Linked DNA regions of Homo sapiens. The protein of the gene in region 1 interacts with the protein of each later gene in a pairwise test. Each region holds a gene or a part of one and is shown on either strand. Other genes may lie near its edges. The genes, in order: CXCR2 and SLC18A2.

Region 1 (3,809 bases):
ACATGGTAGAGTATACGATGCTATAGCCTACTACACACATGGGCTATATGGTAGAGTACTGCTCCTAGGCTACAAACCTACTCAGCATGTTACTGTACTAAATACTGTAGGTAATTATAACACAATGGTATTCTTATATATAAACATAGGAAAAGAACACTAAAAATACAGTATTATAATCTTATGGGACCACTGTGGTATTTGTGATGTGTCATTGACCAAAAAGTCTTTCAGTTGCTCATGACTGTTCCTCAATTTGTCTGTCCGTTCATCAGTTGATGGATATTTGGTTTGTTTCCACTTTTTGGCCTTAATGATGAATGCTACTATGAACATTAGCTTTCAATTCTCTTGGGTGTATACCTAGGTTGGGGTTTGCTGGTTCATGTGGTAACTCTATGTTTAACTTTTTTGAGCAACTGCTAAGCTGTTTTCCAAAGCAGCTGCACCATCTTACATTCCCACCTGCAATGTGGGAGAGTTCTGACTTTTCCACTTCCTCACCCACATTGTTCTTGGGCATCTTTTTCTGAGTGTGCCCAGCCTGGTGAGTGTGAAGTGGGTTCTGGGACCTTTAACTTCCTGGTTTTTCTCTCACACTGGGTTCCATTTTGGGGGTAGATTACGGACTTGGACATGGTTGGTGGTAGGGTGGTCATCCCTTACTCTAAGGCAATGGCCGGAGGGTGATCTATTTTGTGGTTCAGAAAGAAGCTAATTAGGGAGCTGGATTGCTTTAGTTGACTGCTTTGAGAAACTGGGATTTTTTTTTTTTTTTTTTTTTTTTTTTGAGGCAGAGTCTCGCTCTGTTGCCCAGGCTGGAGTGCAGTGATGTGATTTCGGCTCACTGCAACCTCCACCTCCTGGGTTCAAGCAATTCTTGTGCCTCAGCCTCCCAAGTAGCTGGGATTACAGGTGCACGTCACCATACCTGGCTAATTTTTGTATTATTAGTAGAGACAGTGTTTCACCATGTTAGCCAGGCTGCTCTCAAACTCCTGACCTCAAGTGATCTGCCACCTCAGCCTCCCAAAGTGCTGGGATTACAGGTGTGAGCCACCACTGGGATAATATTTTTGAATAACTGCAGCCCACCCTCCACACCCAGGCTTCCCCAGAGCAGGATCTGTGCTGTCCCTGTGGCAAGGGCAGAGCCCCAGGAGCTAGACTAAATCTGAGAGGAACAGGGGAGTCAAGGCTAGATGGAGGCACACACATGCAGGACAGGAAGGGTCTCCAGCAGGGCTGGAAAGCCACCAAGCAAGGGTAGTGCAAACCCTGTCTTCTCTGCTTCCTGCTGCCCCTCTCTTATTGGGTAGCAGACTGGCTGTGTCTGCTTATCCCGCATGGTGGCACATGGCTGCCCAGAGCTCCCCAAATAACCTGTTACGTTTCCACCCACAGGGAGAATCAGGCAGCCCGCTTGCTTATTGTTTTTAATATACTTTTCCAAACTACACAGACATTCCCAAAGCGGGTCTCCTTCTACCCAAAAGAGAAACGCTGGGCCTTACTAATTAACTGAAGACTCTGCTAGCTCGAGCCTTCCAAAACTCCATGCCACAATTGTTCAAACCATTTTCCAGAATACATCTTTTAAAATAACTTTTAGAAAATTGAACAAAGGGATTCATGTCTCAGCTTTATAGTCAAACCATGATCTTTTCTGAGGGTATAGCCCATTTGGAGTTCCTGCTTAATCCCCTGATTAAAAACTGAATGGGGCTGAGTGCAGTGGCTCATGCCTATATTCCCAGCACTTTGGGAGACAGAGGCAGGAGAATTACTTAAGGTCAGGAGTTTAAGACCATCCTGAGCAACATAACAAGTCCCCATCTCTAAGACAAAAAAAAAAGAACTGAGTGACATCTCACATCTCACATTTCTGAACATTAAACCCAGCCTTGATAGCCAAAGATGCTCGCCACTGAAGGATCCAGGTAGTATTGAGGGTTCTGTGGGGATTATCCAAAGAGAACTTTCTACAAAGTTTTAGGTGATGGCGATGCTAAAAGAAATGCTAAGAATTTCTCTCTTATATTAAAGAGAACTATGGTCCTCTCATAAAATGTACCATTTATCACCAAATTTATCTCATAACCTAAGAGCTACCACTTACAAATTTGAAGGGAAAAATTACTACATTGTAATACTCAAGCCAACACAAAGAATCCTATCCCAGTTTCTTGAGTGGATGGGCAAGAATATGGGGAATTTATTATGCAGTAACCTTCATCTCTCTTCTATAGGTCAGGATTTAAGTTTACCTCAAAAATGGAAGATTTTAACATGGAGAGTGACAGCTTTGAAGATTTCTGGAAAGGTGAAGATCTTAGTAATTACAGTTACAGCTCTACCCTGCCCCCTTTTCTACTAGATGCCGCCCCATGTGAACCAGAATCCCTGGAAATCAACAAGTATTTTGTGGTCATTATCTATGCCCTGGTATTCCTGCTGAGCCTGCTGGGAAACTCCCTCGTGATGCTGGTCATCTTATACAGCAGGGTCGGCCGCTCCGTCACTGATGTCTACCTGCTGAACCTAGCCTTGGCCGACCTACTCTTTGCCCTGACCTTGCCCATCTGGGCCGCCTCCAAGGTGAATGGCTGGATTTTTGGCACATTCCTGTGCAAGGTGGTCTCACTCCTGAAGGAAGTCAACTTCTATAGTGGCATCCTGCTACTGGCCTGCATCAGTGTGGACCGTTACCTGGCCATTGTCCATGCCACACGCACACTGACCCAGAAGCGCTACTTGGTCAAATTCATATGTCTCAGCATCTGGGGTCTGTCCTTGCTCCTGGCCCTGCCTGTCTTACTTTTCCGAAGGACCGTCTACTCATCCAATGTTAGCCCAGCCTGCTATGAGGACATGGGCAACAATACAGCAAACTGGCGGATGCTGTTACGGATCCTGCCCCAGTCCTTTGGCTTCATCGTGCCACTGCTGATCATGCTGTTCTGCTACGGATTCACCCTGCGTACGCTGTTTAAGGCCCACATGGGGCAGAAGCACCGGGCCATGCGGGTCATCTTTGCTGTCGTCCTCATCTTCCTGCTCTGCTGGCTGCCCTACAACCTGGTCCTGCTGGCAGACACCCTCATGAGGACCCAGGTGATCCAGGAGACCTGTGAGCGCCGCAATCACATCGACCGGGCTCTGGATGCCACCGAGATTCTGGGCATCCTTCACAGCTGCCTCAACCCCCTCATCTACGCCTTCATTGGCCAGAAGTTTCGCCATGGACTCCTCAAGATTCTAGCTATACATGGCTTGATCAGCAAGGACTCCCTGCCCAAAGACAGCAGGCCTTCCTTTGTTGGCTCTTCTTCAGGGCACACTTCCACTACTCTCTAAGACCTCCTGCCTAAGTGCAGCCCCGTGGGGTTCCTCCCTTCTCTTCACAGTCACATTCCAAGCCTCATGTCCACTGGTTCTTCTTGGTCTCAGTGTCAATGCAGCCCCCATTGTGGTCACAGGAAGTAGAGGAGGCCACGTTCTTACTAGTTTCCCTTGCATGGTTTAGAAAGCTTGCCCTGGTGCCTCACCCCTTGCCATAATTACTATGTCATTTGCTGGAGCTCTGCCCATCCTGCCCCTGAGCCCATGGCACTCTATGTTCTAAGAAGTGAAAATCTACACTCCAGTGAGACAGCTCTGCATACTCATTAGGATGGCTAGTATCAAAAGAAAGAAAATCAGGCTGGCCAACGGGGTGAAACCCTGTCTCTACTAAAAATACAAAAAAAAAAAAAAATTAGCCGGGCGTGGTGGTGAGTGCCTGTAATCACAGCTACTTGGGAGGCTGA
Region 2 (4,454 bases), on another chromosome or scaffold:
CTCCTGCCATCTTAAACGGCTCTCTGCCATCTGCTTCCTCCTCCTAAGTGGTTTTCCTTCTGTCCTCCCTGTTTAATGTTTAAGTTGTGCACATCCTGTGACATCCTGGAGACCCATGTTCCTGACCTACTTACCTATTCAACCATCTCTTCTCACACATGGGGTAGCAATGAGAAGCACAGGGGGTCTCTGCAAGGGAGTAGGGAGGTGGAGAGAGCGGGGGCAGCCACACATCACACTGCTGTTCTCAGTGGCCTCCTGCTGTCAACAAGCTAACATTAATAAAACAAGCCCACTCTTCTGCTAAGAGACTGTGACAGGGTAACATTTATTCTAGGTAGCTTTTCAAGAAAACAGCTCTTGCTCCCACGGTCCCCTCGGAGGGCCTGCAGAGCTCCAGCGATGTCAGAGGGCATCTGTTTGTTTCTCCTTTGCTTATAAAAGGGACCTGGAAATCAAAGGCAGGCTCTTAGCCCTTAGCAGTGAGGATGACAGCTCTGCACCAGCCACACGCAGGCCCCTGGCTCTAGGAACCACCTCTCACCCAGACGCCCAGGCACAGCATGGTGGGGAGAGAGTACAGGACACAGGGCCTAGGCCTGCTGCCCCGCCCACAGCCCGCCCCCTAGCCCTTTCTCTGAGGCCAGGTGTACTCACCTAGCCTCCAGGGTCCCCTGCTCAGGTGGCCCCAGAGGCCCAAACCCACTGCTCCCACTTTCTGAGACCTGGGACCCTCACCTCCCCAACTCCCACCATAGGGCGACACTGAAAAGTGTCCCCTTCCCCCCCCCGTTTCCAAGTCACCAGCTTGAGGATGCCCAAGGCTCAAAGGCTCCTCCGAGTGGCACCCCGCATCGGGCTGCAGAGGTCGGAGAGGGGAGGGGATGGTGGGTGCAAAGGGTGGCTTCTTCAGGAAAGGGAAGCCTGTCCCTGGCTCCCAGCACCTGTCACCCCTGGCGATCTCACCCCGCGGCCATCATTCCCGTCCTCACGGCCCATTTCAGGGACACTGAGGCTCAAAGAGCCACGTGATTTATTCAAAGCAGCTCGAGCCACCACTTGGAGCCACAAGAAAGCCCTGGTCCGTGCCTCCTCGCCTTGGTCCCTGGCCCTTCACTCTTCGTCCAGGCTCTCTGACCTCTTTCCCTCTGCGCCCCTGCCTCTTCCCCAGGCCTGGGTCCCCAAGGCACTCGGCCACGCGCTGGGTCCGGGGAAGAGGCGCGGCCGCGGCCGAGGCGGGGACAGGGAGGCGGCAGCCCCTCCTGCGCAGCGACGGCGCGGGCGGGCGGAGGCCGGGGCGCCCCAGCCCCCCGCCCCCGCTCCCTCCGGCCGTGACGTCAGAGCCGGACGGGGTAAACTGAGCGGCGGCGGCGGGGCGCTGGGGCGGAGACTGCGACCCGGAGCCGCCCGGACTGACGGAGCCCACTGCGGTGCGGGCGTTGGCGCGGGCACGGAGGACCCGGGCAGGCATCGCAAGCGACCCCGAGGTAACACGGCCCCGGTTCCCTGCTCGCAGGGCGCGGTGCCGGAGGGGAGCGGGCCCGGGGGAGGCAGGGAGGCAGGGAGGCCCCCAGAGCTACGCGGGCGGGGCTGCGGGGACCCCGGGGCAGCCGGGGCGCAGGGCGCAGGGCGCAAGGTGCACGGGGCCGAGCGTGCAGTTTGGGAGGTGGCACAGTTGGGGGCGGCGGGGATCAGGGCAGCGTCCTGGGGGTTCTAGGTTGGGTCTCCAGATTGGGTCCCCGACGGCGCTCGCGGGCGCTCTTTCCAGGGAGCGCGGGCTCTCGTGGGGACGCGCTCGAGGCAGGTGAGCCGAGGCTGGGGCGCCCGGGGGTGTCCCCGGATGCCGGTGCGCGCGGCTCCCTGACCCGCCCTTCCGCGGCCTGGGGGACGGGAGAATGGGGGGTCCACGGCCGCCTTGGGTCCTCACCGCGCACCGCGCCCGCAGCGGAGCCCCGGAGCCATGGCCCTGAGCGAGCTGGCGCTGGTCCGCTGGCTGCAGGAGAGCCGCCGCTCGCGGAAGCTCATCCTGTTCATCGTGTTCCTGGCGCTGCTGCTGGACAACATGCTGCTCACTGTCGTGGGTACGTGCGGACAGGGCACCCCTGCCCCGGCACCCCAGCCCCAGCGCCCCTTCCCCGGCACTCCACTTACCCCTGCGCGGTCCCGGAGCTCCGCCAAGGCCCGGGAAAGTTGGAGAACTCGCTTTGCAAAAAAGACATCCCCTCCAGGCTGCCGCGCCGGGGCTAGGAGGAGCCGCGTTGTGTGGCTTCGCTTTCCTGATGCTCGGGTCAAAAACTGTGACATCCGATAAGACCCAGAACTTATGTTTCCCCCTGATAATTTCCCGCATCCTCTTGCCTGCTTTCACTGCGATGAAAAAGATTTCTGTTCCAAAAGAGAAATTCCTAAAGTTCAAAATTACGTGTTAGAATAATTATTGGGCTACTCGAAAAGGCAGGTTAGTAATTTGGTGTAGTACCTAAAAGAGCAAGTTTCGATCCCTTACTCCAAAAACAAGACATTTAGATATACTGTATTAGTGAATGACTTGAGATGGAAATATTTCAGGAACCATTGCAAGAACAATTTGAACAATCTTGGTTCTATTATTTTTCCTATAGTGGAATTTTGAAAAATTAAATAATCGAAATCCAGGTCCCTTAATTAGGCCCATTAACAGAGAAGTATTTGGCATGCATTTCCTTAAAAAAAAAAATCCCAGTTTTTAATGAATGAAAAAAAAATCACGACTCATTTAGACTGTAAGTGGTGGGAGCTGTTTCCTTTCTCTCCATTTGCAGGTTTTCTCACAGCAGTTTTCAGAGCATCTGATAGGTTTCATCTCGAGGAGTTATCAGAGCCGTGGAGCTCATCCCTGTTCAGTACCAACGGCATTAGTTCTGCTTCGGCTCGAATGCTCCATTGGACACATGTGCTCACAGCTTCGATTATATGTTTCACAATTTAATTTGTATTTTTTGTTGTTGCTTTTTATTTTGGTTTTTGTTTGTTTTTTTGAAATGGAGTCTCACTCTGTTGCCCAGGCTGGAGGGCAGTGGCACAGTCTTGGCTCACTGCAACCTCCACCTCCCGGGTTCAAGTGATTCTCCTGCATTAGCCTCCCGAGTAGCTGGGTTACCGGCATGCCCCACCAAAGCTGGCTAATTTTTGTATTTTTATTAGAGACAGGATTTTGCCATGTTGGCCAGGCTGGTCTTGAACTCCTGACCTCAGGTGATCTACCCGCCTCGACCTCCCAAAATGCTGGGATTACAGGCCTGAGCCACCGTGCCTGGCCTGTTTCAGTTTTGCTTTTTCCTTGTGAAAGCCTTAGGAATTCTTAAATCTTACAAGTTGTAGGAAAAATTACAGATTCCCACTCATAATAGAAGGATGAAGTGGGCCTGTTGCAGAATTTCCAAGTTATTACTTCCTGCAGGTTAATTTTTTTCTAAGACACATAATGAAGTGTAGTTTTCTGTTTCCTTGATTCATTCATTTGAAAGTCTTTTGAGCCTCTCTTTCTTAGAAGCACTGGTTGACTCCAGGTCAGCACTCTCTTAACGTCAGGCCACATTTTGCTTTTCTGAAATATTCCTTGAAGGAACAATGTGGAAGAAACCCACAAATGACAGAATCTCTGGGACCAGTCAGTTCAGCACAGCAGCTGCCTTTTGAGAGGAGACAGTTCTCAGGGCCGTTGGGGGCATGGTTCTTTCTAGTGAGCTAAGTAAAGTGAACTTGCTCCAATGTCGTTATAGACATATGGCACAGGGCTCCTGTTTTGGGGTAGACCTGTCACCCTCTGGACCTCTTCTGGCATTTGACACAACCATAGTTTTGTTGTTGTTATTGTTGTTTTGTTTGTTTGAGACAGAGTCTCACTCTGTCACCCAGGCTGGAGTGCAGTGGTGCAATCTTTGCTCACTGCAACTTCCACCTCCCAGGTTCAAGCGATCCTCCTTTCTCAGCCTCCAAAGGAGCTGGGATTACAGGTGGGTGCCACCACGCCCAGCTAATTTTTGTATTTTTAGTAGAGAGAGGGTTTCTCCATGTTGGCCAGCCTGGTCTCGAACTCCTGACCTCAGGTGATCCACCTGCCTCAGCTTCCCAAAGTCCTGGAATTACAGGTGTGAGCCACTGCTCCCTGCCGACACAACCATAGTTTTTTGCTGGCTTTTTTCCTGGAGAGGGTTTCAGTGTGATCACCACCTTGCCATTCTGCTCTTATCCCCAGTCCCCATCATCCCAAGTTATCTGTACAGCATTAAGCATGAGAAGAATGCTACAGAAATCCAGACGGCCAGGCCAGTGCACACTGCCTCCATCTCAGACAGCTTCCAGAGCATCTTCTCCTATTATGATAACTCGACTATGGTCACCGGGAATGCTACCAGAGACCTGACACTTCATCAGACCGCCACACAGCACATGGTGACCAACGCGTCCGCTGT

The links.
Region 2: the proteins of CXCR2 (region 1) and SLC18A2 interact in binary tests that used the Homo sapiens proteins (3 or more experiments, as listed by UniProt).

Annotation. Positions count from the first base shown.
Region 1 is NC_000002.12:218,132,528-218,136,336, forward strand, and holds part of CXCR2 (C-X-C chemokine receptor type 2), read left to right. Parts: intron 1-2,249; 5' UTR 2,250-2,274; coding exon 2,275-3,357; 3' UTR 3,358-3,809. UniProt on the Homo sapiens protein: Receptor for interleukin-8 which is a powerful neutrophil chemotactic factor. Binding of IL-8 to the receptor causes activation of neutrophils. This response is mediated via a G-protein that activates a phosphatidylinositol-calcium second messenger system.
Region 2 is NC_000010.11:117,239,734-117,244,187, forward strand, and holds the start of SLC18A2 (synaptic vesicular amine transporter), read left to right. Parts: upstream 1-1,380; 5' UTR 1,381-1,487; intron 1,488-1,927; exon of another isoform or gene 1,928-1,945; 5' UTR 1,946-1,960; coding exon 1,961-2,081; intron 2,082-2,151; exon of another isoform or gene 2,152-2,264; intron 2,265-4,237; coding exon 4,238-4,454. UniProt on the Homo sapiens protein: Electrogenic antiporter that exchanges one cationic monoamine with two intravesicular protons across the membrane of secretory and synaptic vesicles.